Linked DNA regions of Homo sapiens. The protein of the gene in region 1 purifies or fractionates together with the protein of each later gene. This does not show direct contact. Each region holds a gene or a part of one and is shown in the gene's direction. Other genes may lie near its edges.

Evidence for each region.
Region 2: the proteins of ERGIC2 (region 1) and RAMP3 purify together in Homo sapiens (co-immunoprecipitation; one large-scale study listed by IntAct). This does not show direct contact.
Region 3: the proteins of ERGIC2 (region 1) and CIAO2A purify together in Homo sapiens (co-immunoprecipitation; one large-scale study listed by IntAct). This does not show direct contact.
Region 4: the proteins of ERGIC2 (region 1) and NOC2L purify together in Homo sapiens (co-immunoprecipitation; one large-scale study listed by IntAct). This does not show direct contact.
Region 5: the proteins of ERGIC2 (region 1) and PCDHGB4 purify together in Homo sapiens (co-immunoprecipitation; one large-scale study listed by IntAct). This does not show direct contact.

Annotation. Positions count from the first base shown.
Region 1 is NC_000012.12:29,363,390-29,369,364, reverse strand, and holds part of ERGIC2 (endoplasmic reticulum-Golgi intermediate compartment protein 2), read left to right. Parts: intron 1-1,077; coding exon 1,078-1,124; intron 1,125-2,417; coding exon 2,418-2,488; intron 2,489-5,975. UniProt on the Homo sapiens protein: Possible role in transport between endoplasmic reticulum and Golgi.
Region 2 is NC_000007.14:45,180,305-45,185,739, forward strand, and holds the end of RAMP3 (receptor activity-modifying protein 3 precursor), read left to right. Parts: intron 1-2,852; coding exon 2,853-3,108; 3' UTR 3,109-3,946; downstream 3,947-5,435. UniProt on the Homo sapiens protein: Accessory protein that interacts with and modulates the function of G-protein coupled receptors including calcitonin gene-related peptide type 1 receptor (CALCRL), calcitonin receptor (CALCR) and G-protein coupled estrogen receptor 1 (GPER1).
Region 3 is NC_000015.10:64,082,518-64,088,492, reverse strand, and holds part of CIAO2A (cytosolic iron-sulfur assembly component 2A), read left to right. Parts: intron 1-5,975. UniProt on the Homo sapiens protein: Component of the cytosolic iron-sulfur protein assembly (CIA) complex, a multiprotein complex that mediates the incorporation of iron-sulfur cluster into extramitochondrial Fe/S proteins.
Region 4 is NC_000001.11:945,123-950,374, reverse strand, and holds part of NOC2L (nucleolar complex protein 2 homolog), read left to right. Parts: intron 1-1,771; coding exon 1,772-1,885; intron 1,886-2,142; coding exon 2,143-2,244; intron 2,245-3,829; coding exon 3,830-3,973; intron 3,974-4,088; coding exon 4,089-4,202; intron 4,203-4,721; coding exon 4,722-4,857; intron 4,858-5,228; coding exon 5,229-5,252.
Region 5 is NC_000005.10:141,501,713-141,507,687, forward strand, and holds part of PCDHGB4 (protocadherin gamma-B4 isoform 1 precursor), read left to right. Parts: intron 1-3,680; coding exon 3,681-3,769; intron 3,770-5,975. Other genes in the region: PCDHGA1 (protocadherin gamma-A1 isoform 1 precursor), read left to right, coding at 3,681-3,769; PCDHGA2 (protocadherin gamma-A2 isoform 1 precursor), read left to right, coding at 3,681-3,769; PCDHGA3 (protocadherin gamma-A3 isoform 1 precursor), read left to right, coding at 3,681-3,769; PCDHGB1 (protocadherin gamma-B1 isoform 1 precursor), read left to right, coding at 3,681-3,769; PCDHGA4 (protocadherin gamma-A4 isoform 1 precursor), read left to right, coding at 3,681-3,769; PCDHGB2 (protocadherin gamma-B2 isoform 1 precursor), read left to right, coding at 3,681-3,769; PCDHGA5 (protocadherin gamma-A5 isoform 1 precursor), read left to right, coding at 3,681-3,769; PCDHGB3 (protocadherin gamma-B3 isoform 1 precursor), read left to right, coding at 3,681-3,769; PCDHGA6 (protocadherin gamma-A6 isoform 1 precursor), read left to right, coding at 3,681-3,769; PCDHGA7 (protocadherin gamma-A7 isoform 1 precursor), read left to right, coding at 3,681-3,769; and 11 more. UniProt on the Homo sapiens protein: Potential calcium-dependent cell-adhesion protein. May be involved in the establishment and maintenance of specific neuronal connections in the brain.

The DNA of each region.
Region 1 (5,975 bases):
ACTTCTTTTGGACTTCAGTTTCTTCATCTCTAATGTACTATTCAGGATAGTATTGGTTTTCAAAGAATTTGTTGTTGTTTTCAGCACCAATGCAATACTTCATTTTTTTCCAAATGAAGTCTTATGTATTACATAGTTCGCCACATAAGCATGGTGAGGATATGCAGAAGTTTGTCTACTTGGCCTACTCCTGGTTCCTATCTCCTGAGCCTAAACTCCTGGGTTATTTGGAACACAGTTTGAACTCTAGATGACTTTAAGACTTCATGAAGGTCTAAAAATCTGTAATTCCTATTTTAAATCAGATGAAAATTATTACACAGAAAAAAGTTATCATAGAAAGCACAGGACTGAATTTGATCATAGCCAGTCTATTATTCGCAATGCTTCATTCTGGTATTCGAAAATTGCTTTGATCTAATCATTTGAAAATGAAAGGCCATGAAAAATTTTAAGCATCAGGTGATTTACTTTTGGTAGTTTGGTTGCATTTATCCTGAGTTACATAGACCTAGTTTCCAGTATGCCACTTTAATGGTGATGTGATCTTAAGCCAGGTATTTACACTACCGTGAACACCAGTGGTTTACTTGAAAATCTGTGAAGCCATCCATTTATAGCTCCATGATATAGAATAAAGGAGATAATATTTGTAGAACATCTAGCATCATGCTTAATATATGGTGTTTGATAAACAGAGAAGAAAGACAATTCCTAATTCTTGATTTTGAGAGTTTTACATTCTTAAAAGAACATTCTATCAAAAGTTTATGTAAATAGAGATTAAGAGGTTAAGACTTTTTCTGAGTTGCTTAGAGTTATTGATTATAGAGTTGCCATTATTAAAGGATACTGTGTTCAAAAACCTGTGAAGTCAGAAAGGCTTTTGGAATAAGGGCAAAATAGAACTTGTAATTTAAAGAGCCTTTGTTTTGGCCATGAGAAATGCAATTCAAGTTCTAATCGACATAATTTATTCTGCTTGAAATCCAAGTTTTTAATAGGTCAGTTGATTTATATTTCTCATGTTTTGCTAATTAATTGGTAGGTACTAATGTTTAATATTTTGTCTTTCAGCAAATTAAGAATTAATATAGATATTACTGTTGCCATGAAGTGTCAATGTAAGTACACCTTCAACTTGCTGAATCCACATGTAGGTTATGGTTCAAACAATTGCCAAGCAAAAATAAAAATCACTGGTTGTACTTTATTTTTCCTTTATAATATTTTAAAGTTTTACTGTGGTATTATTTAATAATACAAATTGTTTTACTCCTCAGCTTATATTCTTCAAGTTTCTTTTCCATAAAGAGAAGAGATAAAACTTTCACATTAGTATAATTAAAAGAAAGTTGGAGGAAATGTTTGTGAATCAGCATTCTAGTTTATGTACATCCTTTCTGTCTTTTTTTGTTTGGAGTACTAGCTTTTATACCCATGTTTCACAAGCATATCCTTGTGTCACTGTTTCAGTTTACCACCTTTTATGTTTACTCTTGCGTTTAAAAATACAGATCCAGTTATTTTAAGTTAATGGTGATAGGTTACCCTTTTCTTTTTTCGTCACTGGACTCACTTGGTTATACTAATAGAAGTGGAAAAATGCTAATATGCCAGATAGTGAATGTTTGAATCAATACTGTTTTCAAAAATAAGAATGCTTTTGCATGAAAAATATTTTATGAGTTACTGCTTAAAAATTACAGACCAAGAACTCAGAGAAAATTTTTACATTTTTAAAAGTATGAAATAATTTTACCCAATTAATTAGAGGTTATTTTCTGTGAGATTCTATCTCAGAACGACCTTGAATCTCTTTCTTTTCAATATGTTTTTCCTTATGTTGGTGGTTTTAAGAGATAAAAAAATACTTTATTTTTAAACTTGTAGTTAGTGGTAATTCTGAATATATGATATTCTGCCTTATTTTGGATGTTTAAATACTGTTAAATTTTAGCCTTTTCCGAATAAAATTTCCTATTTGTTGATTTGTAGCATAGCTTTACGATTTCTTTTAATCTCTAAAAATATTTCTTGGAATTAATATTTTGTTCAGCAGCCACTTAGTACTTGTGATTAGGTTCTTGCCGATATTTGCAAAGCTCTTCAATTCAGTGACGCTTATCCTTTTTAAATGAGATCTTGAATTATCTTTTTTTTTTTATTGGGTAAGAAGTTTTTTACTGGGTAAGAAAAAACATTATTACATTTTGGAATAATCTCCACCTAAGCTATATAAGGCTACTGTTTTAGCTTTTGGACAAATATATCGGAAATTATTCTACATAGTTGGTGAGGTTTTTTTTTTTTTTTTGCTTGGTGAGTTTTCTGTTAGTTGGCTTAATTTGTTTATATTGGGGATGGTTTGCCTCCAAGCATAGAATGTAAAACTTCTAATTCTTTTTTCTATGCAGATGTTGGAGCGGATGTATTGGATTTAGCAGAAACAATGGTTGCATCTGCAGATGGTTTAGTTTATGAACCAGTAAGTTTGATTCACATGGTTTTTTGAAATACACGGGTTGAGGAATCGTACGCTTGAAGACAGATAGTTGCTTTTAGTTTTGTCTGAAATAGTTTTTAGTATAATTCTTTTATTTCAAAAGTAATCCATATTCTTTGTAATAAATTTAGGGGGAAAAACAGAAAAGTTATATTATATACCAAAATCTTGAGGTGACCATTATTAACATTTTGGATGTATTTTGGATGTGTCTAAAGTCTGTTTTATAACCTTTTTTAATATTTTTGTTATTACTTTCCAGTAGTTTCCTTTTCACTTTTCTTCTAGTTATAGTGATGAGTTTTTTTCTTTTTCTCTAGTAATTTGGAAACTTTTATGTCCTGTTTGTATTCTACTATGACCAAATTTAAGTATTTAAAATATTTGAACTGTATTTCTCTTACAATCAAGAATAAAGTAGTATCTTTCTAAGAGGAGAAATGTCATGGGCATTACTACTTCCTTCCTCCTTTACGCCTCTATTTCCCTCAGCGTGTGAAATGCTGACATTTTCTTATTATCTTCAGAGCACAAGTTGAATATAACATCGTAGATTTATCAGAAAATATTGTCACATTTCAGTGGCAGATACAGTGATAACGAGTCATGATCAGAACTAGCCCTAAATAAGCTTTCGAGAATAAGCATGAGGCCCTCAGCAGCTAAAAGTTGCTCTGTTGGCATGGTGGTACTTAAATTTACGCATGCGTTCTTGAGTTCCTTTTCTTAATCATTGACAATTGTGAACCTTTCTTTTAGCAAATTTGCAAAGTGAAGAGTGAAGGTGAAGGAGGGGGAGTAGAAGTGACTGAATGTATGGGGTTAAAGGAAAGAAAATGAAGTCCTTGGCCAGTTTTGATTATTGAATTAATTTTAGTTTACAGCTACAAACTTGATATGTGCCTTTTGACATATACATTTTAAATAGAAATTTCTACAGAAACAGTAACTTTTGTTATTGCCACTCTGACTCTACTTTCTGACTCGTTTTCCCACTCAAAAAATCGATTTTGAAGTAATTTTTTATGAGCTTAGTTACCTTACAGATTCATATATGACAGCATATTACACTATTATCTGCTCATTTTGATCTAAGTGATTATTATTAGATATTTTAATATTTGTATTACATTTTATACTATCTTAAGAATACTTATTTAACTTTAACTTTGTTTTTTTTTTTTTAATTTTCTGCCATTCTTACCTTATTTTTGTTTATCATTTTGAAGAGGGACTGTTTTTTCAACTTTTAGTTTAGATTCATGGAGTACATGTGAAGGTTTGTTACCTGAGTATATTGTGTAATGCTGAGGTTTTCAGGTTATGATTGATCCCATCACCCAGGTACTGGGCATAATAACTAGTAGTTTTTCAATCCTTTTCCTTCTCCCTCCCTCCCCTCTCTAATAGTCCCCACTTTCTGTTGTTGCCATTTTTATGTCTATGAGTACCCAGCGTTTAGCTCCCACTTATAAATGAGAACATATGGTGTATGGTTTTCTGTCCTGCCATTTATTTGCTTAGGATTATTGCCTCCAGCTGCATTCATGTTGCTGCAAAGGATAAAAGTTTCTTCTTTTTTATGGCTGCATAGTATTCCCTGGTGCATGTATACCACATTTTGTTTATCCCATGTACCACTGATGAGTACCTAGGTTGATTCCATGTATTCGCTATTGTGAATGGTGCTGCAATAAAGATCAGAGTGCATGTGTCTTTTGCATACAATGATTTATTTTCCTTTGAGTATATACCCAGTAATGGGATTGCTGGGTTAAATAATACTCTACGTTCTTTGAGAACTCTCCAAATTGCTTTCCACAGTGGCTGAACTAATTTCCATTTTTACCAGCAGCATATAAGTGTTCCCTTTTCTCCACAGCCTCTCCAACATCTTTTTTTTTTTTTTCTTTTTGACTTTTTAGTAATAGCCATTCTGACTGGTGTGAGATGGCCTCTCATTGTGGTTTTGATTTGCATTTCTCTTATGATTACTGATATGGAGCATTTCTTCATGTTTGTTGACCACTTGTATATCTTTTGAGAAGTGTGTGTTCATGTCCTTTGCCGACTTTTTAATGGGGTTGTTTTTTACATGTTCAATTTATTTAAATTCCTTATAGATTCTGGATATTAGACCTTTATCAGATGCATAGTTTGTGAATATTTTCTCACATTCTGTAGGTTGTCTGTTTACTCTGTTGGTAGTTTTTGTTTTTGTTTTCTGTGCAGAAGCTCTTTAGTTTAATTAGCTCCCACTTTTCAATTTTTGTTTTTGTTGCAATTGCTTGTGGGGACATAGTCATAAATTCTTTCCCAAGGGTGATGCCCACAATGGTGTTTTCTAGGTTTTCTTCTAGGATTCTTATAGTTTAAGGTCATTTAAATCTTTACCCATCTTGAGTTAATTTTTGTATATGGTGAAAGATCTGGGCCCAGTTTCATTCTTCTGCATATGGCTAGCCAGCTCTCCCAGCACCATTTATTGAATAGAGAGTCCTTTCTCCATTGCTTATTTTTGTTGATTTTGTCAAAGATCAAATGGCTGCAGGTGTGCAGCTTGATTTCTGGATTCTCCATTCTGTTGAGGGGGGACTTTTTGAGATTTATTTTACAGCAAGAATGTGTAGGTATGTTTTATGGATTCTAGCATGACTGCCTGTATCTTCTGCTATTATCTTTTATTACCCATTTTCTCTGTTGCTCTGAACTGGGAAAATCCCTTTCACATGGGTTTTTCTATCCTATGAAATAAACTTATTTTGTGCTCTTTCTCAATTTGGTTTCATTTGTATGTTGTCTTGTATAAATTCATGAAAGTTTACAGCATATGAATATTAATTTAAAATGATTTAAGATGATAATAAAGGTTGCATCCTCATTTTTATGTTTCTTTTGGATGCTGAGAATTATTGTTTATGTATTATAATCTTGAATGTATCCTCTAAAAGTCACTTACACTGTTTCTCTAGCATTCTGTCCATATTCTAACTGTTGTGGTCACTCTCTTTTTTTTTTTTTTTCACATTTATGAGATGCCTGATGCTATCTTTTTTTTTCCCCCTACATCTCTTATCTTTCTAGCTGGATTTTAAGCTCTTGAGAATCATTAATTTCATTCTTTCATCTTTGTAGTTCTCAAAATGCATTGCAAAATGCTTTGCAGATTTTAGGCAATAGTGATATGTTAGAATTAAGCAGTTGGGACAGTATTGTTGACTGTTTTCATTGTAAACAGTTTCTGCCATCTCTTCTAGTAGTTTATGGAGCAGGAAAATTTTATTTAAATTGTTATAATTAAAAATTGTATCTTAATGAGAAAGTTAAGAACTTCAAAATATTTAATTGTATACTTTTCATTAGTAATATTTAAAGTGTTTAACCATGCTTTTAGGAAACTATTCATTCCTTTGTGCTAATTTATATAAAAGTGTTTAAGAATTATTTTTAATATAAAATTATTAAAAAT
Region 2 (5,435 bases), on another chromosome or scaffold:
TGCCCTGCAGCCCAGCTCAGTCAAGAATGAAGGACACTCCTTTCTTTCCCCTGAATGTTCATTCTGCTTTGGTCCCCACTGAAGCAGGGTGGGCCTTGGTGAGCTTAGAGGAGAGGTGGCTTGCTCCCCTCAATAGGACTGGTCCACATGACGACCCCATCAGGAGTCGAGTCATGGCTGGGAAGACCCTATTCCCCAAACTCGCCCATGGCCTGCCTGTGGCCTTCCCTGGGGAGGAGTCTCATTGCCCCTCGGGGCAACCAGAGCGTGTCCTCTCCTGGGAACCTCCCTCCAATAGCAGCAATGGGCTCCTTCTGTACCCAGTTAAGGAGCATTGCTATGGGATTTCCAAATGCAACACTATATTGCCTGGGAACACACTCAGGTGGTGAAACATAAAGGAAGGTGGGCAAACACCCCAGAGGTGGGTGGGGGGAGAGGGAGTCTGACTGGGGGGTTTGCCCGGCTTCCAGCCTGCTGGGCTCCTCTCCTTCCCATCCTGGGTTGTGGTGCATCTTTTTTAGGGAGAGTGCTCTGGGGAGCCTGACTGAAGGAGGAGTGGAGAGGCCCCAGATTATCCAGGGGATGAATAAATCATAAGTAGTTCCCGGTTTTCTAGAGAAGCACTGAATGTGGACCTCTCTAGATATGTGACAAAAATGCAGATTTTGTGGATCCACAGAGATGGGTGCTGTGCTCAGCTCTGCCCCAAACCTAACAGCTGGGGTGGGCTCACCCCATGACCTCCTCTGTGCCAGGCACTTGCTGGGGCACATGGACCTCAACTCATTTGGTTCTCTCAACCACCTGATAGGATAAGTGTTATTAAACCCACTTACAGATGAGGAAACTGAGGTCCAGGGAGGATAAATGACATGGCCCATACCACAAAGATGGTGAGTGGCTGAGCTGGAGTTGGAGAGGCCCTGCCATGTTGGCTCTGCAACCTGAGCCTGAAGCCACTGTCCATGCTGTCTTCTGGGATTACCTCTGCTCCGTGGGCTTCTCCATGTGGCCTAGCTTTGGCTGGGAGTGGGGTTTGGGAACAGCAGGGGCTTTCAGCCCTGCCTCACCTCCTCTTGGGACGGTTCTGGGGCTAGACATCACTCCTCTTGCCCTGTAGACTCGCTGTCCACAGAGGGTCTTCTCCAGGGTCTGTCTGGCTCATCTCAGCCCTGGGGATGGTTGTTGGGGGGTGGCATTCCTGGGTAGCAGTTCAGTGGAATGACTTTGGAGGCACAGAGGTTACCGCATGTGATTCTCATCACACACATAGATGCTGGGAACTTCTGAAGGTGAAGGCTGTTGCAGGGTGTTGTTAGACGGCTCCCCAGCTCCTGGATCAGCTGGCGGGGGGTTGGGGTGGACAGCAGGCTACTGAATCTGAGGCCCTGTGGGAGAAGCAGGTCAGGGAAGATGAGGGTTTGTCCATGGACCTAGCTGTTGAGGTGTCTCTAATGCCTGGGCATGTCTCAGGTGCTGCATTGTGGCTGAGGCCCAGGAGAGCCAACAGCTTTGTACTTGGATTCGAGGCTGTTTCTTTTGCTCTGGCTGTTCTCTGCTGACACTACCTGGAAAGGCACAGGTGTGTGTCTGACCTACATTCCAAGGTGCTGAGAGCCAGCCTTGGATCAGTCAGGAGCTGGGCTGAGTGACTGTACCTGGGCTTCCCAGACCCTTCCTGGGGCATGGGGTTGGGAGACCAGGAGAACCCTGGGTGGAGTAGGTCAGAGTCCCTGTTTCCTACCCCTTTCTGATGCTTTGGGAAATCTACGCCCAGATGATGTTCCATGCAGGAGGCAGCTCTTTCCTGTTGATGGGCCAGATCAGTGGCTCCCTCCTGGGACAGCGCGGGAAGGAGGAGATGGGCTACTTTCCCATGGGGAAGCCGAGGCAGGACCCTTCACACTCCTGCATCTGTACTCATGCAGCACAGACGTGGGGAAGTGCTAGCCCTGCACAGAGGGGGTGGCATCTGGGCAGGAGTCCATCTAGCTTCGTCTAGAACATCCTGAATGAGTGGCTGCCACTCTAGGCCTTGCAGACCCCAATGACAGGGAGGTCATCACCTCCACAGGCTGCCCATTGGAACAGGTGGTGGCTGGGAAGTCCTTTATGCTGAGTTGACCTCTGGGTCTTGGTGGCTATAGCCCTTGGTCAGCATGAGGACTGTCCAGAGCCTGTGCTGGGCGGTCATGGAGCATCATGGGTGGTTTGCTGAGTGCCCTTCCCATCTTTGATCTCATGGACAGGGGGACCCACAGGAGGGGGCTCCACATGTCCTGCTAGATGGGGCTGAAGGAGGCAACTTCTGAGTAGGAGATGAAGAGGCAGGGACTGGGGCTCACAGGTCTGACTCCCACTTGGCCACCACCTGGCACATGAGGGCAGGCTGACTTGATTAGGAGGTGGCTGGCCCCTGGCCTCAGAGAGACCCTCCTCTCAGGCTCTTAGGGTATCCTGGATGATGAAGGCTTTGCAGGTCCAAGCGGCTGTGATCCAGGCACCCTTTGGCCCTGGAGAAGCATGGCTTGGTGTGTCCTCTGGGCAGACCTGCGTAGTGCTTAGAGGTCCAGGGAAGCTGGGCTGAGACCCTGGATCCTGGGAGCTCATGGCCTCAAAGGCAGCAAGTCATGGTCATTGTGATGCAAATGTGGGCAGGGGACACAGGGAATGGGTCATGGGCACAGATGACCCTGTGGCCAGAATGGGGATTTTCCAAGGCTGGGCTGTGAATAGGTGGCCAAATGGGACTGTACCCAAGCCACCCCACCCATCTTCCTGGCCTCAGGTCAGGGCAGGTGTGAGGGGGGATGGCGAGAGCCTGGCTTTCACCCCCTCTGCTTTTGCAGGTACTATGAGAGTTTCACCAACTGCACCGAGATGGAGGCCAATGTCGTGGGCTGCTACTGGCCCAACCCCCTGGCCCAGGGCTTCATCACCGGCATCCACAGGCAGTTCTTCTCCAACTGCACCGTGGACAGGGTCCACTTGGAGGACCCCCCAGACGAGGTTCTCATCCCGCTGATCGTTATACCCGTCGTTCTGACTGTCGCCATGGCTGGCCTGGTGGTGTGGCGCAGCAAACGCACCGACACGCTGCTGTGAGGGTCCCGGTGAGATGGAGTGGGTCACACCTGGCAAGCTGGAAGAAAGTTCCCTGGGGATGGGAGAGCGGGTGGGTGCTGCCAATCTCCAGCTACTGTGGCCACACCCCACCTGGTCATGGGCAGACCCCTCCCTTCCTGGGCTGACCTGCTCCCTCGAGGCCAGCCTGCTCCCTGGCTGAGGCTCAGGCTATCCGCCCAAGCTCTTTGCTCATTCTAGGGCCAGTGGAGGAAAATGTGATAAGGCCAGAGCTTGTGTGCTGGGCACAGAAATCACCTGCTGCATCCTGTGCTCCGCAGGCTGGGCCGGAGCCTCTGCCCGCAGGTTTCTATGCTGTTTCTTAGCACAGAATCCAGCCTAGCCTTAGCCGCAGTCTAGGCCCTGCTTGGACTAGGACTCCTTGCTTGACCCCATCTCTGGTTCCTGCCCTGGCTCCTGCACCAGCCCCAGCTCCTGCCTACATCCAGGCAGAAAGATAGGCAGGGGCTCTTGGAAGACGTTCCGTGCTGTGACCTCCGAGCCCTCCTGGTGGGAAGACAGCTGGAAAGGCTGGGAGGAGAAGGGAGGGGCTGGGGGTTCCCAGGAGCCATGCGTGGCCTGCAGAGTCCATTCCATCATGATGCTGTGCCCGCTATGGGCTGTGTCCATGACCAGAGGCTGGAGTGGGGGTGTGTTAGAGCCCCTCACCGGGACTTGCTGTGCGGATGGGGCCTGGGCCTCCTTCCTACAGGGGCTCCTCTGTGGGTGAGGGGCCCTCTGGAATGGCATCCCATGAGCTTGTGGCCTCTATCTGCTACCATCTGTGTTTTATCTGAGTAAAGTTACCTTACTTCTGGAATTTCCTGTTTTGTTTCATGTTATTCAGAGAGACGGTGCATCTCTTGGGACTGATGAGTCCCCTGTACATATTGTACAGATAGGGAACAACTGAGGTTCTGGAATCCCAGAATGTCAGCGCTTAGGGGGCTCAGAGAGTGTTACAATAGGAGAGGGGCCTGACAGGAGGAGGGACTTGCCTAGCTACTCGCAGCCCCTTGGGCACTTCCCATCCCTGACCCATTGGTTTGAGGATGACAGGGAAGATTTCTCTCTCTTCTGTTTTCCCTTTGCAGCTGCCTTGGGCTTGCTAGGACCCCTGCCTGGGTTTTCTGGGGACCGAGAGGCCCTGGTCAGGTCTGGCTGGAGGCAGATGCTGGTCCTGGGGGGTCCCTAGAGCAGGTGGAGGGGCTTTATCTCCAGGCCTCTGGCCAGGCCCTTGTCCAGGCTCCAGTTCTGTGGACCTGTGTCTTTTGCATGTGGGCTGTTGGATCCAGGATCTTCTTGCTGGATCCCAGGACCCCTGTGAGTGGAGGCAGGCACGACCCTGGTAGTTCCTCTGCCTTTAGAGGCCCAGCTCCCCTTCAATGCCCAGGCAGGCAGGTTCTGGCACTGGGGATCTGCATGGTGGATGCCACTGGACCGGAGGTCTGGGTGGGTGGCCTGAGCCTGACCCCATTGGGGGCACAGTGTAGGGGACAGAATCTGAGTCTACTCCATGTTCTTGGGGCAGCCTTGGCCGGGCATGAAAGGTTGCGATCCCCATCACCTGAGCCTTGGCCAGCTATCTCTGAGATGGGACACCATCTGCCCGATGAGGTGACTGTGTGGAGACAGGGAGGTCAGCGTGCCCACAGGTGTCAGGCCATCTGGCCTGCAGTGGTGGCTCTGTGTTCAGTGGATCCTGGGGTCTCTCATGGGGCCTCTGTGTAACTTGCTCCCTCCAGCCCATTCCGATTCCAGAACCACTCTGCACTGGGTTCCTGGCTGCTATGGTAGAGGTGCAGCCCTGCCCCTTGGCTAGTGTTAGGCACCCCCTGGTTGTGCATCCCTGAAGAAATGCTTGAAATGTGCTGAGGGAACCCCCCAACAAGGGGCTGGGACACCTGCAGCTACCTCCTGGGTCCCCTGGAACCCAAGCCCTGGAAGCTGCTCTGAGTAGGGAGTGAGCCTGGAGTCATGCTCTGGCCTCCTCCCAAGCTCTTGGGCACTGTCTTCTGATCTGCTACCTCCTCCCTGAGGACAGAGGTCCTGGGGGGCCTGGTGAGATTTCCGTGAGGGTTTGGATTCCTGGGGATGGGGTCCAATGAGGGGTGTTCTGGAGGCTTGGAGGTCCCAGGGCAGGGCCCTCAATCACTGTTTCCAGGCTAGGTAAAGCATCAGGCTCTAATTCAGTCAGATGCTGCTCTTGCTGAGTGCACTCTGGAGACAGCTTGAGTTTTTCTGCGATGCAAACTCCAAACTCGGCAGGAGTTTCAAGCTCCCTCACCAGGGACAGGGCCGGTGGGTGC
Region 3 (5,975 bases), on another chromosome or scaffold:
TATCTTCATTTTGCAGATGAGGAACCTGAAGCTCAGAGAGTTTAAGTGACTTGCACAGAATCAGGTAGCCAGGAAATGGTGAAACTAAGGCTCATACCCAGGTCTCCTGACTCCACTTCTCCTTTAGTTATGTCAGGCTGCCCCTCCCAGGTATATATGCCCACAATTAATGGAGAGTGCATGTGGGCCAGTGCTTTTCCTCAGTTCTGGAGGTTGGAGTGGGTGGTGTCAGACTAGCATTGCTTCCATCACCATCTCCTTTCAGTGACTCTTCTGGTTTCTACATAGTATGGGTAGAAGTCCTGGTAGGAGGTTGGATTCCCAGTATTTTGGATTTGTTAGCAGGTACAATAAATGTATTTGAACATATGCTTTGTTATAAAGGGATTTTATTTCAAACCAAATGTTCATGAGTAGGGGATTGATTAAATAATCATTGATGGTGAATATAAACAGTGGAATACTATGCAGCTATAAAAAAGAATGAAGAAGCTCTGCATGTACTGATATGGAGAGATCTCTATGACATACTGTTAAGAAATAAAAGCAAGTATCATTTTGCTATCATTTGTGTAAAAAAAGCAAAAACATACATTTGTATTTGATTGCATATGCCTGAATAATATTAATACATAAATGAATAGCTATAAGGGTGTTAGCGGGTAATAGTGGTGGTGGGAGCTGGGCAGATGGGGGAAAGGGTGGGAGGGAGACTTTATACCTTTTTATGTTTTTACATTTTCAAACCATGGGACTATCTCACCTATTAAAAAGCAACAAGTTTATAAAAAAGATTGAAAAGGTCGCTATTTCGTTATTATTTCCACTATTGTGATTTCTGTCTTTTCTCACTGGTTGACCTGGGTTCCCTCTGCTGGTGGTTTCCACCATATAGGCCACATCTTGAGGGACTGGAGGTCTGTGAATCCATAGGTATTATTGTGGTTATTAAAATCCCATTGGTGACCGGGCGTGGTGGCTCACACCTGTAATCCCAGCACTTTGGGAGGCCAAGGTGGGTAGATCACTTGAGGTCAGGAGTTTGAGACAAGCCTGACCAACATGGTGAAACCCCATCTCCACTAAAAAAAATACAAAATTAGGCCGGGCGCGGTGGCTTACGCCTGTAATCCCAGCACTTTAGGTGGCCGAGGCGGGCAGATCACGAGGTCAGGAGATGGAGACCATCCTGGGTAACATGGTGAAACCCTGTCTCTACTAAAACTATAAAAAATTAGCCAGGCATGGTGACGGGTGCCTGTAGTCCCAGCTACTCAGGAGGCTGAGGCAGGAGAATGGCGTGAACCCGGGAAGCGGAGTTTGCAGTGAGCCGAGATTGCACCACTGCACTCCAGCCTGGGCATCAGAGCGAGACTCTTATCTCCCAAAAAAAAAAAAAAAAAAAAAAGCAAAATTAGCAAGGCATGGTGGCACACACCTGTAATCCCAGCTACTTGAGAGGCTGAGGCAGGAGAATTACTTGAACCTGGGAGGCAGAGGTTGCAGTGAGCTGAGATCATGCCATTGCACACCAACCTGGGCAACAAGAGCAAAAACTTCATCTCAAAAAAAAAAAATTCCCATTGGCATGGCGGCTCACACCTGTAATCCCAGCACTTTGGGAGGCCAAGGCAGTGGATCACTTGAGGTCAGAAGTTCAAGACCAGCCTGGCCAACATGGTGAAACCCCATCTCTACTAAAAATACAAAAATTAGCTGGGCATGGTGGCACGCACCTGTAATCCCGGCTACTCGGGAGGCTGAGGCAGGAGAATCGCTTGAACATGGGAGGTGGAGGTTGCAGTGAGCTGAGATTGCGCCACTGCACTCCAGCCTAAGCAACAGAGTAAGACTCTGTCTCAAAAAAAAAAAAAAAAATCCCATTGCTAGAAAAAGCATTACTGAATGCTGAATGCATGGTTATTTTTGGTCATTGGACAATTTGTGAACGAACAGATACTGAAAGTACTGCTGTGGGTGTTGTGGAGGGGGTGTCTTAAAATATTTTGACATATAAGAAAGAGTTCTTAAATGGAGAGTTCAAGAACCTATAGCAAATTTATTTATTTATTTATTTTTTGAGCTGGAGTTTAACTCTTGTCACCCAGGCTGGAGCGCAATGGTGCAATCTTGGCTTACTGCAACCTCCGCCTGCCAGGTTCAAGCGATTCTCTTGCCTCAGCCTCCCAAGTAGCTGCAATTACAGGCGCCCGCCACCATGCCTGGCTAATTTTTTTTGTATTTTTAGTAGAGATGGGGTTTCACTATGTTGGCCAGGCTGGTCTCGAACTTCCAATATCAGGTGATCTGCCCACCTCGGCCTCCCAAAGTGCTGGGATTACAGGTGTGAGCCACCACTCCCAGCCAGCAAATTCATTTTTAAAATTAACATTTATTTAAATTATATGAGTAACATGTTTATTGGCAGTAATTTTGATACCCCACAAAAACATAAAGAAAAAAACCAGCTATTATGAAAGAATGTCACTGGGTGCAGTGGCTCACTCTTGTAATCCCAGCACTTTGGGAGGCCGAGGCGGGCAGATCATGAGGTCAGGAGTTTGAGACCAGCCTGGCCAACGTAGTGAAACCCTGTCTCTACCAAAAATGCAAAAAATTAGCTGGGCGTGGTGGCGGGCGCCTGTAATCCCAGCTACGTGGGAGGCTGAGGCAGGAGAATCGCTTGAACCCGGGAGGCGGAGGTTGCAGTGAGCGAAGGTCACGCCACTGCACTCCAGCCCAGGCTACAGTGCGAGACTCCGTCTCAAAAAAAAAAAAGAATATATGCTCTGGGCTAAAATTCCAGGTCTATTGGCTGTACCGTATTGTGGGCTTCGGCAAGTTACTTAACCTTTCCAAGACCCAGTTTCCTTATCTGTAAAACAGGAATAATAAGGATATCTATAGAGTCGTAAGAGTTAAGTAATAGCATGAAATACATGAATTATTTTTCTCATTAAATATTTCTTTTTTTAAATTTTTTTTGTTGTTGAGACAGGGTCTCACTCTGTCACCCAGGCTGGAATGCAATGACACGATCTCGGCTCACTGCAGGCAGCCTCCACCTCCCGGGCTCAAGTGATCCTCCCACCTCAGTCTCCTGAAAAGTTAGAACTTCAGGCAGGTGCCACTATGCCTGGCTAGTTTTGCCATGTTGCCCAGGCTGGTCTCAAATTCCTGGGCTCATGCCTCAGCCTCCCCAAGTGCTGGGATTACAGGCATGAGCCACCATACCTGGCCATCATTAAATATTCTTTAATTATATAGTTATAGGTTACATGCTAATCATATTGGTACATCAGAAGTTTTGTAACCATTTGGACTACTTCTAGCCTTTTGCAATTATAAATAATACTGTGATGAGCAACTTTATTTTATTTTATTTTATTTTATTTTATTTTATTTTATTTTTTGAGACAGAGTCTCACTTTATTGGCCAGGCTGGAGTGTAGTGGCCACTGGAGCTTCCACCTCCCAGGTTCAAGTGATTCTCCGCTTCAGCCTCCCGAGTAGCTAGGATTACAGGCATCCTCCACCAAGCCCAGCTAATTTTTGTATTTTTAGTAGAGACGGGGTTTCACCATGTTGGCCAGGCTGGTCTCGAACTTGTGACCTCAAGTGATCTGCCCTCTTTGGCCTACCAAAGTGCTGGGATTACAGGTGTGAGCCACCGCGCCTGACCGAACAACTTTATATATAAATATTTTTATTTATTTATTTTTTGAGACGGAGTTTCACTCTTGTTGCCCAGGCTGGAGTGCAATGGCATGATCTTGGTTCACCACAACCTCCACCTCCCAGGTTCAAGCGATTCTCCTGCCTCAGCCTCCCAAGCAGCTGGGATTACAGACATGCACCACCACACCTGGCTAATTTTGTATTTTTAATAGAGATGTGGTTTCTCTATGTTGGTCAGGCTGGTCTCTAACTCCCAACCTCAGGTGATCCGCCTGCCTTGGCCTCCCAAAGTGCTGGAATTAGAGGGGTGAGCCTCCGTGCCTGGCCTTATATAAATATTTTTATATATCTCATTATTGCATCAGGATAAATTCCTATACGTGGAATAATTGGGTTAGATTATGTAAGTATTTTGAAGCCTCATGGTATATATTGGTAAATCCCTATCTGGAAGTTTATACTGTTTGACGCAGGAGTTAAGGAACTAATTTTATAGAAGAAAATATTCGCCAGACGTGGTGGCCCACACCTGTAATTGTAACACTTTGGGAGGCCGAGGCGAGAGGATCACTGGAGCCTAGGAGTTTGAAACCAGCAATCTCTTAAAAAAGAAAAAAAACATGAAAAAGCTTGAATAAGTTCAAATTGCATCATGATTGCAGTTATAGAAAAATGTGTACGTGGACAAATATCAGGAGAGTGCATGAAATAAAAACTGTTCTGTAAGGGTGCTAACATTAGATTATAGTTGATATTTCAGATCTGTACACTTCCTGTAGAAAGTTTTGTCTTAGCCCTTTCGTTATGCATTTCAGCTAAGACCATTGGCTTTTTATTTTTTATTTTTATTTTATTTTATTTTATTTTTTTTTGAGACAGAGTCTTGCTCTGTTGCCCAGGTTGGAAAGCAGTGGTGCTGTCTTGGCTTACTGCAACCTCTGCCTCCTGGGTTCAAGCGATTCTCGTGCCTCGGCCTCCAAGTAGCTGGGATCATAGGCGCGTGCCACCATGCCCAACTAATTTTTTGTATTTTCAATAGAGACGGGGTTTCTCCATGTTACCCAGGCTAGTCTCAAACTCCTAGCCTCAAGTGATCCGCCCACCTCGGCCTCCCAAAGTGCTGGGATTACAAGTGTGAGCTGCCACACCCGGCCTATTGGTTTTTTAGAGAATTGTATAATAGTGTATCATAGTAGTTTTGTTCAGTCAACACAGCTGGAAAACTTGAGAGAAGCCTTCGTCTGTCTGATGTGTTAACAGATATTCCTCCAGAGCAGGTAGTCCTAGCCTGGAAAGGTGCCTGAGTAAGAGTATCACCTACTCAATGTTACCTTGGTAAGTGATTGACAAGGAAGACTCCAAGGGAACAAGAGGGTAAGGCAGGGAAACAAGTTGATAATCATTTGTGGTGACTTATTCCAGATAAGAATGGCTGAAGGCAGCTGTGGTCCAATGGGAACGGTCTTAGGGTTTGGAGGTCAGAAGGTGTAGGTTTGGGTTCTACCTCTGCCACTTGTTAGCTAAGTAATGTTAAATCACCTACCTTGGTTTCTTGGCTGTAAAATGAAAATTATAAAATAGTATAAAATAGTAATATTTTATACTATTATTTTTTACTATTTATAGTAATTATTTTTATACTATTATTGTACACTTATGTGTCAGGTACTGTTTTAAACACATTGCATAACAGGTTATTCCTCATAGCAACCCTATATATTGTGATATTATTATATATATTTTTAAGTTTTATTATTATTATTATTATTATTACTTTTAGAGATGGGGTCTTGCTACGTTGCCCAGGCTGGTCTTGAACTCCTGGGCTCAAGCAGTCCTCCCGCCTTGGCTTCCCAAAGTGCTGGGATTACAGGCATGAGCCACCTTGCCCAGCTGATACTATAATGCCTGTTTTGCAGATAAGGAAACTGAAGCTCAGAGAGGTTAAGTAACTTATGCAGGATCACAGCGAGTATGTAGTGAAGCTACTTTTGAAACCCAAAGTATCTCAGTTATGCTGTACTACCTCTCTTGAGGATAATGATGCTCAAAAAAGTGCTTTGCGAATTGTAAAACACCTACCAATAGTGACTAAAATACGTGAGGATATTCAGACAGTACACAGATAACAAATTAAGGAGACAATGGTGGGGCCAGGGGAAGAGGAACTCTCCCAGATATGCTTTAAGGCAGATCCTCTGAAGAGAGACCCTCTTAAGGAAATAATATATTTTCTTTAGAATTCTCTAATATTTATTATAGAACTACTGTGTTCAAGACTCTATAAGGTCGGGCGC
Region 4 (5,252 bases), on another chromosome or scaffold:
GTCTACCTGTGCATGCATGAACCTTTGCATGTGTGCATCTGTGTGCATGCATGTGTGTCTGCGTGCATCTATGTACCTGTGTGCACCTATGTGCATACACACGTGTCTGTGTGCACTTGTGTGCATGCATTTGCATCTGCATGTGTGTACTGTGCGTGTGTACCTGTGCGTGTACCTGTACACTTGGGTGCATGCATGCACGTCTGCTTGTGTGTGCCTGTGCGTGTGTGCACCTGTGTGCATGTACGTGCGTCTACGTGTGTGCCTGTGCATGTGTGCGCCTGTGTGTACCTGTGTGTATGCATCTTTGCACGTGCACATGCCACTCAGGTAGGGAAAGATTGGAGTCCGAAGTTTCAACTTTCAGTGGGTGGGTTAGGCCCCACCCCGCTGTAAATTTAGGAATTCACGATCTCCACCCTGTTTATCTAATGAGTTCTCAGCCTCATGAAGGCCCAGAGTCGTGTCACAGCTGTCCTTGGGGCTGGGTCCCCAGGTTGCTGGGTCCAGAAGGTATGGAAGCCCCAGGCACGTTCTGATTCCCCTTCCACTGAGGCAGGGATGCTGAACATCTTTAGGAAGCCATGTTCACTCCCATGGCAGCCAGCAGTGGTCTCTGATTGCCCAGCCCTTGGCCTGGCCCCTGTGTCTGTGGGCCTCCAGCTCTGCTGCCCAGCTCCAGGCATGCTTTGTGTCTGTTTCCCTTGTCCAATCTCCTTGGCTACGTGCTTTCTTACTCTCTTGCAGTGTCTGTTTCTTCACTTGTGCACTGCCCTGGTTCACTGCAGCCGCACCCTGTAGGCCCCTCTCACGCAGGGATGCAGGCCTCTCCTCTCCGGAAAAAGCAAACCCTAAAAGCTAAAACAAAGCCCTCAGCTGTAGGCCGTGCCTGCCCTTCCCCGGTGCCTGGACAGGAAGCCAGTCGCCTGCCCATACTTTTGGCCCAGGCTAGAGAAGGGCAGTGTCCTCCCAGAGGTTCATCAGTACCAGGGCGTTTTCCCATCTGGACCTGAGCTCAGCTGTCTGGCAGCCACCCCTGCTGAGTGGGGTGTCTTGCTGGGGCCTCCACCCTTGGGCCCCCCATAATCTGCTTCTGTCCTCTGGTGCCCCAGCATGTACCCTGGATCTCTCTGGTTCACAGCCTGAGGGCTCCTAGTGGTTGGGGAGGGGTCACAAGACTGAGAGGCCAGGCTGACTCTTTCTCTGCTCCTCCTGGCATGTCCTACGGAGGTGCATGGCCTGTGGCTTCTGTGGAGGGTGTGGGAGGGGCCCCCCAGGCCTCCCGTGACCTCCATCTGTCCCGTCCTGTGTCTGGCACTCTTTGCTGTTGCTGCTGCGTCTTCTGGTTGCTCGGGACGGAGCCCCATGTGGCATTGCTGTGCTGAGGGCCAGGATGGGCCTCAGTGCCATGTTGTCAGGAATGGGGGCTGTCCTGGTACTCTGTGTGGCAGGGACCTCTAGGTCTCCAGACGTGGGTCCTTAGTGCTTCCCAGGATTTTGGGAGAGGGCCCGTGTTCCTGATCCTTCCCTGCTGATCAGAGCCCCACTCGGGGACACGCCAGGCTGTGTGGGGCCATGGGGCTGGGACCGTGCCTAGCTGCTTATCTCTTGTTTCGGGTTGGGTCTCCTCGTGCTGAAGCCTGAGGACCAGGGTGACCAGGGTGCAGCCAGGTGCAGGGCCAAAGGGACCAGGGGGACCAGGGTGCAGCCAGGGTGAAGCCAGGGTGACCAGGCATGGGGCCGAGAGAGCCTGACACGGCCCTTGGGGCAGATGTTCCAGCAGGTCGACTTCAACAGGAAGCCAGGGCGCATGAGCTCCAAGCCCATCAACTTCTCCGTGATCCTGAAGCTGTCCAATGTCAACCTGCAGGAGAAGGCGTACCGGGTGAGGCTGGCCTCCTGGGGAGGGGCCTGGGCAGTTCCCAGGGTGGGGTTGGGGGTGCTGAGGTGGATGGGAGGGGGCTGGCATCCTCCAAGTTCAAGCATGGACCTTCATGGTCTCCCAGGGCTGGGGCCCAGGAGCCCCTTCCTTGCAGTCCGTGCCCTGGAGATGGCGCTGCCCTGACAGCCTGAGGGGAAGGGGCCTGAGTGCCCAGCCCCAGCCTCTCCCTGATGCACTCGGCCCTCTCTCCTGCTCTTCAGGACGGCCTGGTGGAGCAGCTGTACGACCTCACCCTGGAGTACCTGCACAGCCAGGCACACTGCATCGGCTTCCCGGAGCTGGTGCTGCCTGTGGTCCTGCAGGTGTGTGTCCTGCCCACACCGGCTCGTGGCCGACTCAGACTGTCTTATAACGGGCTTGGCTGCCCCAGGCTGGTAGGAGGTGCCCTTGTCCCGGGTACCTGGGACTGGGGTGGAACCTGACTGCTGGCAACGCGCCCCGTGAGGCCCCCTTGGAGGGGCTGATGAGGGGTTCTAAGCCATTCAGGAGGTTTGGGGGCAGGCCTGGGCAGTGGGCTGAGGACCCTGGGAGCACAACAGCCTCCTCCCCAGGTGGGAACCACAAGGCTGATCTTTGCTTCGGGGTTGGGACTGAGCATGCCGACCCTGGCTCAGGCTGGTACGCTGATCGCACACTTCCCCAGGCCATCCCGGGTGTGGGGAGTGGGTGGAGTGGCTTCTCAGGTGGCAGGAAGGCCTGGCCTGCCCCGCCAAATACCCCACATCAGCCTCATAGGAAGGCCCAGCCTGCCCCGCTAAATACCCCACGTCAGCCTCATCTTAGGCAGGAGTGGGGTGGAGGAGGGGGTTCTCCTTATCCTCAGAAGGTCCTTCTGGGCCCCCACGGGAGGTCTGTTTGCTCTCAGCCGTGATGTTTCCAGCCTCAGGGAGGCCTGTGCCTAGTGGAAGGGGTGGGGGCCCTGCTGTCTGGCCCTGGTGGCTGGAATCAGATGTGCCGACTATAGGTCTGTGCAGTGTGGGGAGGAGGGATCTGCTCACATGAGCCACAATTGGTCAGAGGCTTATCCAGATAGAGGTGTGTGCATGTGTGTGTACTCACACACGGCCACACATGTCACATGCACAGAGCCGGGACCCCCTTTCTGGGGGGCACTCACAGCAGGGGCCACAGCCTCTGTTCCTCCCATGTCCTCTTGGGTGGTGATACCTGGCATTGGGGCATCTCTGCTTCTGGACTCAAGGGCCCAGGGTCGGGGTCTGGGGTAGGGGTCAGAAAATGTTTTTGGTGAGGGGCCAAATGGTAAACGTGGCTTCCTACGGATGTTCAGCTGCACAGGCAACTGCAGAACCATGCAATGCACACGTGTGGCTGCACGTCAGCGAGACTGTATTTTATTAGTAGTAGTAGTATTGTTTGAGATGGAGTCTCGCTGTGTTGCCCAGGCTGGAGTGCAATGGTGCGATCTCGGCTCACTGCAATCTCCATCTCCTGGGCTCAAGCGATTCTCCAGCCTCAGCCTCCCAAGGAGCTGGGTTTACAGGCGCCCACCACCACACCCAGCTAATTTTGGTATTTTAGTAGAGACGGGGTTTTGCCACGTTGGCCAGGCTGGTCTTGAACTCCTGACCTCAGGTGATCCACCCGCCTCAGCCTCCCAAAGTGCTGGGATTACAGGCGAGAGCCACCACGCCTGGCATAAAACTTTATTTCCAGAGGTGAGTAGTGGGCAGGGTTGGCCCAGAGGGTGGGCTGATTCTGCCTCTGCCATCCCAGCTGCAACAGCTATGCACTTGAGCCCTGAGATGGGATCCATGTCCCCTCCTGGGGTATCCCCGTGGCCACCACGCGTGGTTTTGCACAGGACCTGGGCCAGCTGTGCACATGGAGCGGTCCTGGGCTTCAGTGGCTGACCCCTCCCTTCCGCAGCTGAAGTCGTTCCTCCGGGAGTGCAAGGTGGCCAACTACTGCCGGCAGGTGCAGCAGCTGCTTGGGAAGGTTCAGGAGAACTCGGCATACATCTGCAGCCGCCGCCAGAGGGTTTCCTTCGGCGTCTCTGAGCAGCAGGCAGTGGTTAGTGGGCCCTGGGGGTAGTGCCACCTGAGGGCACCTGCCAGGGTATAGCCCCAGCTACATGTGGGGGTTTGCCCAGGGTGAGGCATGACCCTGAACTCCCCCAACCCCCCAGGAAGCCTGGGAGAAGCTGACCCGGGAAGAGGGGACACCCCTGACCTTGTACTACAGCCACTGGCGCAAGCTGCGTGACCGGGAGATCCAGCTGGAGATCAGTGGCAAAGAGCGGGTGCGGCTCGGCGAGGGGACCTGGGGGTGTGTTGTGACTTCCTGGGTTTCAGATCTAGCGCACTATGACTTGAGACCAGGGCGAGGGTTTGGAAACAGTGCCAGGCGGCCAGGGCCGTGCCCGGATGATTCGACTTGGAGAGGGGGTAGGTGTTGGAGAACTGGCCAGAACCAGGCGTTTCCAGGGAGGGGAAGCCCCAGGCTGCACTAGGTTGGGGAGGCCATGCCCCCTCAGGCCTGATGGGCTGGAGGCTCCGGGCAGGTGGAGTGGCTGGACTGACCTCGTCACCCAGGCCAGTATGTGGGCACCAGGGGCCCGTGAGGAGAAGCAGGAAGGGCTCTGCCTTTGACCTTGGACATGGGATGGACAACTTGGAGGATGGCTTTGTGATTTGGGAACAGAGGGGACTAGAAATTGGCCACATGGGGCCCTGGTGGTGGGTCTGGCGATGCCTGGCCCTGCTGTGGCCGCCAGCCCCTGCCCTCTCTCACCTGAGCCCCTGGTTCTTTGGCCTTCCAGCTGGAAGACCTGAACTTCCCTGAGATCAAACGAAGGAAGATGGCTGACAGGAAGGATGAGGACAGGAAGCAATTTAAAGACCTCTTTGACCTGAACAGCTCTGAAGAGGACGACACCGAGGGATTCTCGGAGAGAGGTGGGGCCTGCGTGGTGCTCCCAGGGGAAGGGTGGGCCTGGAGGGCTCTGCTGGACTTCCCAGAGCCACGAGGGCCACCTGTACCCATCCTGCAGGGGGCTCACCAGTCTCTGGCCCAGCTGGGGCCAACCTCAGTGTTGCCAGGCTTCTGGTGCCAGCGCCTTCCCTCCTTGAAGTGAAGGCCTACTGGGATTGGTAACTCTGTCCCCAGGCCTGTGACCTCCCAGTTCCTCCCCAGGGCTCCTCTCCACCTGCTGGAAGTCAGCGGAGGGAAGGGTGTTGGGAGCCTGGCCACCCTCCTGCCCCCACTGTGACTTTGCTGGTGGACCCTGTGGGTGGGAGTCATATGGACTCTGCTTCTTGTTCCTCAGGGATACTGAGGCCCCTGAGCACTC
Region 5 (5,975 bases), on another chromosome or scaffold:
GACAAATATATTACCCAGTCAGCTTAGAATAGGAAGCTCTCAGTAAATGGTTAAAAAAGAGGTCTCTCTCCCTCTGCTCATCTCTTACCCAGCTTCACATAATTGGCAGCCCACCCACCTGTTTGGCCCTCAACCTTCAACCATTTCCCAGGACGCCTCCTTACACTCCTGATCATCATGGTTCCAACCCCACTGTTCCACTCAGCTTTGTTCCCTCAACACCACTGCTCCCTGTGACAGGTCATCCTCCTAACCTCTGGCATCTGGTCCCGTTGTCTCCCTGACAACCCGCATGCTCTCCTCCCTGCAACCCCCGCCGCTTGCCTGCTCTCCCTACTTTATTCCCATTAGCCCCCTTCACCTGGGGCTGAGAACACCTGGCCTTGACCCTGCACCCTCAGCCAGGCCCACAGAGCTCAGTCGGGCCGGAAGTAAGGACCCCAGATATTCAGTTGAGGAATTTAACATTAATACAATAATATAGAATCCACCAGCAGATTTTCATAAATGTTCTGTGTGTTCTTTTATCCTTTTTTTTAATCCAGGATTTTATCAAGGAGCATAGATTGCATTTGGTTGTCACGTCTTTCCTCTCCTTTAATCTGGAGCCAGCTCCCAGTCTTTTTATTTTTTTAATGACATGGATATTTTTAAAGAGTCCAGGCCAGTTGTACTTTAAAATGTCCCCGAACCTGGATTTGCTGGCTATTCTCTGATGGTTAGATTCAGATTACACACCTTGGTAGGAATACTTCCCGCAGCATCACACTGGGACTCATCTAACGTCGGCCTGTCCCACTATCAGTGATGCCGAGTTTGTTCGTGTGGTAAAAACAGTGTCCCAGATCTCTCCATTATAAAAATATATTTTTATAAAGATATTTTAAAATATTTGTGAAAATATAAGTAATCTGTGGATGATACTTTGAGATAGGCAGCAACCCTTCATGCAATTTTAGTATTCCCTGATGATCCTTGCCTGTATCTGTTTTTACATCAGTGATTACAAAGCGGTGATGTTCTGTCATTCCTTCTACATGTATTTGCTGGTATTCTTCTGAAAATTACCTGGATGATTTCTTCAGATTTAAATTCACTGTCTTTTCCTTGGGGAAGCCTGGACTGGCTGAGCTGCCTAACCCTGACTCTCTGTCTTTTTTTTTTTTTTGACAGGGAGTCTAGCTCTGTTGCCAGGCTGGAGTGCAGTGGCAACCTTCACCTCCTGGGTTCAAGCGATTCTCCTGCCTCAGCCTCCCAAGTAGCTGGGATTACAGGCGTGTGCCACCATGCCCGGTTAATTTTTTTTTTTTAATATCTATTTTAGTTGAGACAGGGTTTCACCATGTTGGTCAGAATGGTCTCGATCTCCTGACCTCGTGGTCTGCCCGCCCCTGCCTCTCTTCATACCCTCTGGTAGCCCCTGACACAGCCCATGGCAAGTATCACAATTGCAATTACTCTATTGTGTAATTATTTAAAATCAGCCTCTCAGTGCCCACCATGAGCACCGTAAAGATGGACAGTTTCTATCATACTCACAGCCACAACCCCAGCACCTGGCTCTGTGTCTGGTACATAGAAATTGCTCAAGAAAGAATTGTTGGAGGGGCGCGGTGGCTCACGCCTGTAATTCCAGCACTTTGGGAAGCGGAGGCAGGTGGATCATGAGGTCAGGAGTTCGAAACCAACCTGGCCAATATGGTGAAACCCCATCTCTACTAAAAATACAAAAATTCGCTGGGCATGGTGGCATGTGTGCACTTGTCGTCCCAGCTGCTCAAGAGGCTGAGGCAGGAGAATCACTTGAACCTGGGAGGCAGAGGTTGCAGTGAGCCGAGATCGCGCCACTGTACTCCAGCCTGGGTGACAGAGCGAGACTCCAGCTCAAAAAAAAAAAAAAAAGAAAAAAGAAAAGAAATAATTATTGAATCAATGGAAACAGAATTACAACTCTTCCCACTTTTGGGAAGGAGAATTGAGATTCCTGCTTTCCCCTTCAACCCTAGCTTTATGTTTGTTGTGATGGTATAGAGGTCACACATGGCAGCCTTGTGTCTGTTCTTAGGCTGAGTTCATCTACTTAGGGACGGGGAATCCCAGATTGGGCAAAACCAAAAGCAGGGACAGACCTTGGAAAAATTGTAAAGCAGTTCTTGGTTGTGCTCACCCACCATGACAAAATATGCACACACACAACGCAACACACACACAGACATTTTCATGCCTTCAAGGCCTACCCTACAGCCTTTCCCATGGTGCCAAACCCTTCTTCTTACCTTACAGTCACTTAACTGTCTCTGCTGGTCTCTTCCCACTCATTTAGGCAACAAATATTTATTGAAAAACTTCTCTGAGCCAGATGGTGCCAAACAGTTACCTAAAGGGCAGACTGTGTGTGTGCCAGGGCTGTTTCCCGCCAACACTCCCCTGCAAATTGAAATAATTTCATCCTTGGAAATTCAAAAAAATCATGAAAATTGTCACTGTGGGAAAATTCCAAGTAGAGCTGAACCTTCTAAGAAGCAGAGAGTTCTTCTTATGGTTTAGTATTTTTTTAAATTATGAATCATTTCATGTTTTTTCAACACTCGGAGTTTCTAAAAGTCTCACTTAGGTCCAAGTGCTAGGCTTTGTGCTAGGTGCTTCAGTAGGAAGCAGGTGGAGTCGCTGCCTCACAGAAGCCAGTGTGGTGGAGGAACAGACAGGCACTACAACAGCTGCAGTGTGACTAGTGCCATGTGGGGCAGCCGCTGGGATGGGAGTACAGTGGAGGCACCTGCCCAGTCTGAGTGGATCTCCTCTGATATATTTTATTCGTGTCATCATGGCAAATGTTGGGGGACTGGCATTCTAGGGAACACCATCTGCCCAGGATTCACAGCAAGAGGGAACTTGAGGGATAGGAAAGTGCACCTTGGAAAAGGTTTGATGATAGAGTGTTTGAGGGCGGGGGGTGGGGGTTCTTGTAAAATAGGAGGGGCAGGTTCTTCTATGGCCGTGGATTTTACTCTGAGGGCTTAGGAAGCCATTGAATTTTAGAAATTTCTTCTCCCTGCTCCAGGGTCTCTTGGGGCCTCCTACATCTCCCCCTAGGTACCTCCTAGGTCCCCACTTTTTCTCTAGCTCTGGAACATTCTCTTCCATTTCCCACCTTCACAGTCCTCTGGAGAAGGTCTGATCTCCCTCACTATGACAGGAAGCCAGGCTCTCTCATGGTGGGTGGGGGAATGCACTATGTTCAATGCATTGGACCAGCCTGGCCAACATGGTGAAACCCCGTCTGTACTAAAAATACAAAAATTAGCCTGGCACAGTGGCAGGTGCCTGTCATCCCAGCTACTTGGGAGACTGAGGCAGGAGAATCGCTTGAACCCAGGAGGTGGATGTTGCAATGAGCCAAGATCGCGCCACTGCACTCCAGCCTGGATGACAGAGTAAGACCCTGTCTAAAACAAAAAGAAAAAAGCATCGGAGGCAGCAAAGAGCTGGTTTGAGGGACTGACTTGTGGGATTCTGGCTTCTGAAGGATTGTAGAAGTGCCTCCTACCTTGCTGAGAGAAACAGGTCTTGGGCATGGGGTAGGGTTAGGGTACTAGGTTTGGGAGCCCTGGGAGAGGACAGGAGGGGCATGAGCTGTGCCGGCCTGGGAGTCTGTGCTCACCATCCTACTCTCTCCCCAGCTCCCAAAATGGCGATGACACCGGCACCTGGCCCAACAACCAGTTTGACACAGAGATGCTGCAAGCCATGATCTTGGCGTCCGCCAGTGGTAAGTGGTGTCAGTGTGTGTATGGAAGAGTGGGAGACCTGGGGTTCTGGGGTGCATCTCACAGCCACCATGCCCACGGACTGGATGTCAAACCTGTGTAGTTTCTCCAGATCTTTCGGCAGGTCTGAAAGGACCCACAATTCCAAACATAAAGCCTGGAATTGTGGCTAAGGAACAGCAGAGGGGTTGGGGGTCCTGGGATGCCTGGAGGAGAGCGAACAAGGAAAAGACTCATGGAGGGAATAGTGGTTACAAGTCTAGCTCTGGAATGGGACAGTGTAGCTCAGGTCCTAGCTCTGCTACTATCCTTGGGACTTGGATCGACTTGCTCAATCTCTCTAAACCTCAGTTTCCTCAGCCTAGAAAGTGGGGACAGGGACCCCAAAGGGTTGTTGTAGAGATTAAATGAGATGATACCACAAAGCATAGAGTTCTGGGCCTGGCGCTTGGAAGCCCTCAAGCAATGAAAGTGGGTGTAGAAATCCCCAGCCGAGAGAACACCTCCTCTTTATGCGAGGCTCCTCTTTTGCTGCCCCTAACTCCAGAGTAGGATTCTGGTTTTCCCATAAGGTTGACTAAGGGCTTCCTTTGTAATAGAGATTCGGCTAGTGGTGGTTGTCCCTGAAGAGTCACTAGGGCCCAGAGCAGGAGAAGAAGAATATCATTTGTCCTTAAGAGCACAGCCTAAGCTGGGCGTGGTGGCTCACGCCTGTAATCCCAGCACTTTGGGAAGCTGAGGCAGGAGGATCATGAGGTCAGGAGTTCGAAACCGGCCTGGCCAACATAGTGAAACCCTGTCTCTACTAAAAATACAAAAATTAGCTGGGCATGGTGGTGCGTGCCTGTAGTCCCAGCTACTTGGGAGGCTGAGGCAGGAGAATCGCTTGAACCTGGGAGGTGGCTGTGGTGAGCAGAAAATCGCACCACTGCACTCCAGCCTGGGCAACAGTCTCGCTCTGTCTCAAAAAAAAAAAAAAAAAAAAAGAGCACAGGCTTTAGAGGCAGGCCAATCTGGATTCAAATCCTGGCACCTGGCACCACCACTTAGCAATGAGTCCTTAGGTAAGTTATTAAACCCCCTCGGTTTCACTTACTATTAATGGGCACAGTATTAACGGATCTCATTGTGGTGTTACCAGGGCCAAATGCAAGTCCCTCAGCACAGGATTGGCAGAGAGTAAGGGCACAATATATTATTATCTTTGCTGACCCAAACCCGTTTTTTACTGGGTAGAAAGCAGAATTAGAATAATGCCTATTAATAAAGACTAGCTTCTGGAGCAGCAAATCCTGGGCTTATAAGGAGGCTGGCAGAGGATCAAGGCATTGCCCTATATCATGAACTGATAGCCCTGCCCTCCAGCATGTCTGGAGGACTGGTGGGTAGAGAACCAGGTGAAATCACAAGAAGCACTGTCATCACACCTGGGCACATACTAAACAAACTTTAGGGGCCTCCTGTCAATGAATCCTCTCAATAGCTCTGCAAGGCAGGTCTGATTTCTCACACTCGACAGATGAGAGAACCGAGAAGGCACTTGCCCCAGGGTCCTCAGTTTTGAGCTGCCAAGCTGAGGTTCTAACCTGGCTCAACTCCTAAGTTTATGCTCTTTCTACTATAGGGACCATGGCTGCCTTTGGATCCAGCCTCGGCTTCTCTATTACCTGAGCAGGATGAGAGGCTGTCCTCTTCCTCGAGCTCTGCTTTATTCTTCCAGATCAGGGTTGCCAGATAAAATACAGGATGCCCAGTTACAGTTGAATGTCAGATAAACAGCAAGTACTATTTCAGCATAAGTCAGTCTCAAATGTTGCATGAGACATAATGTACTAAAAAAAAAAATGCTCATTGTTTACCTGAAATTCAAATTTAACTGGGAGCCCTGTACTTTTATTTACTAAATCTGGCAACTCTACCCCAGATGTCTGTGAGGTTAAGTGGGGCCAGGCCTACAGCTGACGGAAGGACAGAGAGAGAGGTGGCAGGGACTGCTGGCCTCCTGAGGCAGAGCTGTCCCAGGTCTGGTGGGGCTATGATTCCAGAGAGGCCAGAGACTGAGTATGAAAGTGGCAGGCGGCTGGGTCTGAGGAGATGCCAAGTTGGCCTCTTGAGGGAAATAAACAGGTATATTTAGCTGTTGTGGCCTTGCGCCCTGAGGCCAGGAAGCAGCTTTTTAGCCTAAATCCAGATGTTAAAAACAGAAAT